Regions from separate parts of the Homo sapiens genome. Here region 2 is linked to region 1. The links come from fine-mapping of genetic effects on gene expression. Tissue or cell type: lung. Region 1 holds a variant in brackets; the other region holds the start of a gene. All regions are shown on one strand. Distances are between the middles of the regions. Region 1 has its middle 22 kb from the start of LINC00941. Region 2 holds the start of LINC00941 (long intergenic non-protein coding RNA 941).

Region 1 (2,904 bases):
ACCCAACTATTCACCCTGAATTGGCTCATTGAATCTCTTGTAGTCCCAGTGTTCAGCCCCTCTTGGCACTTGTATCAGCAAGCTAGAAATTAAAATAGACCATCATCCATTCCTCAATGACGATGAGTTGTGCTTTCATGGACTGATTCATGAAAAAGTGGAGAAAGTGTCAGTAACTCCCAGATTAACTGTTTCTAGAGTCTAGAAACAAGAGTCTTTGTGGTTCTCCAAGTTCAGCCCATCTAGATTTTCTTGGTTCCTTTTCATTGCCATAAAGGTCTTCTAGAAATTGACTTTAGGTAACATCCTTTTTCTAGTTTCCCAAGGTTTCTACCACTGCGCTGCTAAGATTCTAGTTATGATGGTGATGGGGGCCCTTTTGAACTGACAACTGGTTCTTGCTGTATATTTGGCCCCTAGATGGAAATTTGGAGTTTTGACAGACCCAACACACACACACTCTCTCTCTCTTTCTCTCTCTCTCTCTCTCTCTCTATCTTTCTCTCTCTCAAAAGTTTTCTGCTGCCTTCTCTTTTGAATTTTTCATTCCCAGGTCTCACTGGACAGTGGCATGGGCTATGGGGTGGGCTCCTGCCCACAACTCCCAGGGTCCTGCCAGTTATGATCCCCTCACCTTTCCCACTCATACCCACAGGCTCCCTTCTTGTCTAATGTCAACACTGGCCAGAGTAGCCTTCCTCCCTGCACCCTACAAGGAAGATGTCAGCTGTGACAAGGACACCTTGCCCAGTGCTGCTGTGAGGGAAGGAGGTATAGATGGGAGTTCCCCATCTAGGGCAGTGGATCTTTCCTAGCCTGACCTGCTGGTCATTTAGTCTAAGACTGATGTACGATGCCTATCATCAGGATAGATTAGTTCAATGAATAGTGACATCAATGAACCACATCCATGATGTGCTTGGTGATGTCTACTCTCCACCTAAAATGGAATTTTCCCTATGACCTTGTGAAACATAATTGCCAAATCTCCTGTAGCCCTCCTGAAAACCCCTGCATGGCAGGAGAAAACAGCCAGTGGCTGAGGAACCAAAGGACTTGAAGAAGCACAACTTAAGGTCTTTGATTTGATCAACTTAATTTTTATTTGTCCTCTGAGCAGCCCTGCCTCTTTTATTTCTACATCTTGATCTTTTAGTAATTCTTCATGTGCATGGCCACAAGAAGCAAAAAAAAAA[AC/C]AAAAACAAAAACAAAAAACTCCAGCTGTTTGTTTTCTGCCTGTTCCTAGAAGATTTTCATGGTTTTGAGATAAAAAGAGGAGGCTTTTTTCTAGGTTTTGACTTGGATTAGTGAAAATTTCCCTGCTATTCAGAAGCTGTTAGTTATAGCCCCCAGTGGGCTTCCCGCTGACTGGGGAATCAGGTCAAAGAACAAGAGGATGTCTCTTATCCTCCCGTTTCCCTGGTTCCAAATTCCAGGTACTTGTCTGGAGTGAAGCTGCCTATCACTCCCTGACAGCCGTTCTCCATCCAGAATGTCTCCTGACCCTCCAGCTGAAGACAGCAGAGCCAGCACAGGAGAAGCAGACCTTTCCATGCCCAAGTTCAAATCTTTCTGAGAAATAAGAACACTCTGAAAATGAGGAGTTTGGAATCATCAAAAGGGTGATGGTTGCTTTATAGAGGCTGAACGATGCACACTCAGCACTCCTAAAGGCAAAAATATAGAATAAGAATTTAGGTTAGGGATAGACTAGAACCCTGGTAATTGGGGTTTTCAGCACCATCAAGCCATTATCATAAATGTTCCAAAGGAGGATGATGGTATCTCCATGCCTACAGGCCTAGAATAATTGAAATGCCATTCTCTAGGAGTTAGAATCAGTTTAGCAAAGAGACCAAGAAAAGGGTTGTCTGGCTCCCAGAAGCCCTCTTTAAACCCCAGGACAATCAAAAACTTGCTGATAGAGTCTGGGCCAATTCTGCTTTTTAAAGAAGACCTGGTTCTGGGGTAAAGGTCAGCAGAGAGAGGACTGTGGGGAGAATAGGGGCAAGAAAAGGGCATATTTTGGCTCCTTCTGTGTCTTCTCATTGTTGTAGAAAAAAACAGGTTCTCATCGCACAACCAGGAAAGATTAGGCATGCAGACACTTTGAAGGGTGAGTGGTTACAGAATTTATTGGGCAAAAAGAAAAAAGATTCTCAGCAAAGCTAAAGGGGTTCCTGTTAAAAGGCCCCCATCTCACAGATTGAATTCCAGGTCACCACCCAGGAACAGGAGAGGCCAGGCTCCTCCCCCCTACAAACAGCACGAACTTCCTGAGGCCCTGCCCCATCCTCCCAGTGCACAGGCCAGTCGGAGGTTCTCCAGGGACCACTTTTTACTTGGCTGTCTCACCATTTTGTGGAAAGACATGTTTAGTTCACCCATCCACAGTGACCAGTGGGGTGGAGTGGCTGATATATCAAGGGTCTATATAGGAAGATTTTCAATCTGGTGGTGTTTTCGCAGTCACATTGACCTTCCTGGCAGGTGTGAGGGTCTCTACCACCCAGTTCCCCACTCTGCTGATGTCCTTCCACTCATGCTATCCAGCTGCCACATGACACAGGTCCTGTCTGAAGGCAGGCGGGGAAGCCCAAACCTGACTCACAGGGCAGCTCGCAGTTGCCAGAGTCTAGGTTCTCCAGCAGCCACATTTTGAAGAAAGACATGTCCTACAATTGTCACGGATGGGCACCCTTCCCCCTCCCTACACAGATCTCCCTCTTCCTGCTCCCCTCCCAGCTCCCAGCTCTCCCTTCTCCTTGTAGCCTGGTGAGAGGGACAAGTCAGAGAGAGTTCTACATACAGATATTTGCACAGTTTTTTTGTGAGGCCACTTTTGGTTTTAACTTTATTTCTATCTCAAAGCAATGAAAAATTGCTTTATTGCATCAGATACC
Region 2 (2,904 bases), 22 kb after region 1:
CATGTAGGATGAACTAGGGAAGAGGAGGCTCGAAGCCCCGGACTGGCCATGAGGCTGGCAGGAACCTAGAAGAGGGGAAACGCGTGCCCGACTTGGTATCGTCCTGGAGGGTCCAGAGAGAAGAGGATGCAGGCAGCATACGTTTTAAGGGATGAGTCGTCGGAACTGGATGCTAATCAGATATAATCAGCTGACGACATTCCTTCTGTGGAGTAAGCCACTTGGGAAGACAGTCTTGGGTGCGGAGGGGACCCAGCGGGACGAGACCAGGTGCCTGCTGGTCTCCCAGGTTCGCGCAGGAAGGCTGGGAATTTCCTTGCCTCCTCCCCACCGCACCATCCTCCACCCCCGGCCCGGAGCTGTCTCTACCTGGAGAGAAAAAACGGAAAGGCCGAGAAATCAGAGCCAGAGGGCAGAGTGAAAGGGGTGGGGATGGGAGAGGATACAAAGGGGTTAGGACGAAGAAAACGGACTTCCTAGAGTCCCGACTTGAGGGCTTGACTTCAAGAAGAGAAGAGAAGTCTGAAACGGGGGCGAGAGCAAAGGCAGGGGGTTGGGGTGGTCGGGGGGGGGCGGCGATTATAATCGACTTTTATGGCTTGACGGCCAGGGCAGAAATTAAATTTGGGGGCCGGCTAAGGCTAGAGAGTAAGGTGACGGCTCGCCCCGCGGGTTTGGAGCTGTGCGCTGGGGGCCAAGGGAGCAGCGGGAGGAGCGCATGCCTGGGGCGCACGGGCCGGGAGGGGCGGGAGGAGAGCCCAGTCCCCAGCTCAGATTACTCTCCTAGGCATGGTCCCCACCAGAGCCGGGGCTGGAAGCTGGAAATCCGAGTAGAGCTGACTCGGACTTAGCTGCCCAAGGGAAAGCCTCCGGGCGGTCCTCGCTGCGCCCCTAGTCCGGGGCCCCGACCCCTCCCGGACACTGCTTGGGCCATGCGGGCGCCGCGTTGCCGGCCACTCGTCGTCCCGGGGTCCCAACTGGGGCCGCTCCTGCTGTTCTAGAGCTTGCTGGCCCCGGCGCGCCTCTCTTGCAGCTCCTGTACTACTCGAGGGGACCACGTCGTCCCGGAGGCGCGGCCATCGAGAGGATGCTGCGGCCGCGGGGCGGCGGGGGCGGGCGTTTCAGGGCTACTCACCCGAGCTGGGAAGGCAGGAAGTCTGTGCTGGCTGGGGGTTGGTCTCAGAGGGACTCTGGGGCTTGGACACAAAAATCGCGGCGCACTGGGGAGGACACCCGGAGCGGTGGGAACTGCGGTGTGGACCCGGGAGAAAAGGGGGTTGGAGGTGGGGGGAGATCGCGCGGCACGCGTTGCATAACCTGACCTGCCCTCCTGGGCTGGAGGCAGGAGTGACACCTCCGCCTGAGCCGCAGTTCAGAGAAGGCTACCGCGGCGCTGGGTCCTGCGGGACAGCCAGCAGGGCTGGGGTGGAATGGGGGCAGGGGAAGGAGCCCTGAGAGGAGCCAGGATGGGTCTGGACCTGGCTCCAAGTCGCGTGCCCTACACACCCCCTCTGCGCTGCCCAGCGGGGCACGGCCCGACCTCGGAAGGCCCATCCGGCTCTCAGAAGTGGCCGCTCTACCAGCTGCCCATAATGCTGCCGAGGAGCCTGTGCCAGTCCCACGGCTGCCGTGCAGCAAGCGGGCGGCCCGACTGACTTCAGCCACGTCCCCTGCGTCAGACAAGTGGGCGTCCCCTGCGTCGAGACAAGTGGGGGATCCGCGAGGCCTGCAGGGGCGCAGGGACCAGAGTGCTAAGACGTGGCATGACCTTTCAGGGAGAACTGCGCAGAGGGTGGCCAAGGGTCACCTCCCTCGAGGGGCGAAGCCCTGAGATGTGAGGATGATTCTTAAGACAGCGCCCTTCCCGCCCCTTCCAACCCCCCAGACCACCACCCGGGTCTGGGAACAGGGTGAGCGCATGGCGAGAGGTTGTCTGGTTTTGTAGCTATCAAGTTGTACCCCCGCTGTGCCCATAGGAAGTGACTCATCTGCTTGTCAGGTAGTGGCCTTGCTGTGAGCCAGGACCATATTAAGAAAAGAAAGAAAAAAAGGAGCAGCAAAACACTGTGCCCCTGCACAATGTGCTCTCCTTTCTTCTGCCCTCCCTCTCCTAGGCTGTCCTCTTCTTCCTCCACTTGTAGTTTGCTCAGCCCCCTCCCATCCACTGCCACCCCCGCCCAGTTGAATAATGCTCGTATCTGAGTCAGCGGATGTGAAACAAAGGGTTATTTCTCCTTATCTAATTTTGTGGAAGATTGACTAAAAGAGGGTGGAGAGTGTGTCTATTTAGCAGGAAAAAGATGTTTTTAACGTGAATAATATTGAGAAATGTGCTGTGACTTTCACTGTTGGGCAAAGCAGGGAGACGCCTGCCTAGCTGGCCCTTCCTGCAGGCTTGGTAAAAAGTCCTCTCCGGTGGAGGGTTGGTGGCCATTTGTCAGGTACCTAAAGAATACAAGGCGCTATGCTAGGAACTAGAACTGTACAGAAATATCCCGAAGGCTCTAATGTCATGGGACCTAACTCATTTCGGAGGAAGTAAGGCTTGAAGGTAGAGAACTATCTTGCAAGGCCGCCTGTGGCAAGCTCTTTGCACAATCAGTGAATGTACAGAAATCCAGGGTAAACAAAAATTACTTCCAACTGGGATATACTTCATAGAAAAGGCATCTGGGGTGGGGCGCAGTGGATAACGCCTGTAATCCCAGCACTTTGAGGGGCTGAGGTGGGTGGATCACCTAACTTCAGGAGTTCCAGACCAGCCTGGCCAGCCTGGCCAACACGATGAAACCCTGTCTCTGCTAAAAAAAATACAAAAAATTAGCTGGGCGTGGTGGTGGGTACCTGTAATCCCAACTACTTGGGAGGCTGAGGCAGGAGAATCGCTTGAACCCAGGAGGCGGA

What was found. PIP is the estimated chance that this variant, and not a neighbour inherited with it, causes the effect.
Region 2: it holds the start of LINC00941, and the variant in region 1 is fine-mapped to the expression of LINC00941 in lung (TOPMed, PIP 0.98).

The regions. Positions count from the first base shown.
Region 1 is chr12:30,816,641-30,819,544 of GRCh38, reverse strand. No RefSeq gene overlaps it. Among named protein-coding and RNA genes, the nearest start is that of LINC00941, 22 kb to the right of the region's middle. The variant AC/C (reference allele first, on the strand shown) is at 1,197.
Region 2 is chr12:30,794,448-30,797,351 of GRCh38, reverse strand. It overlaps LINC00941 (long intergenic non-protein coding RNA 941), which reads right to left and starts at 1,671. Exons shown (of 5, transcript NR_040245.1): 1 at 1,136-1,671. RefSeq lists enhancers at 880-1,381, 1,382-1,881, 2,384-2,883, 2,884-2,904.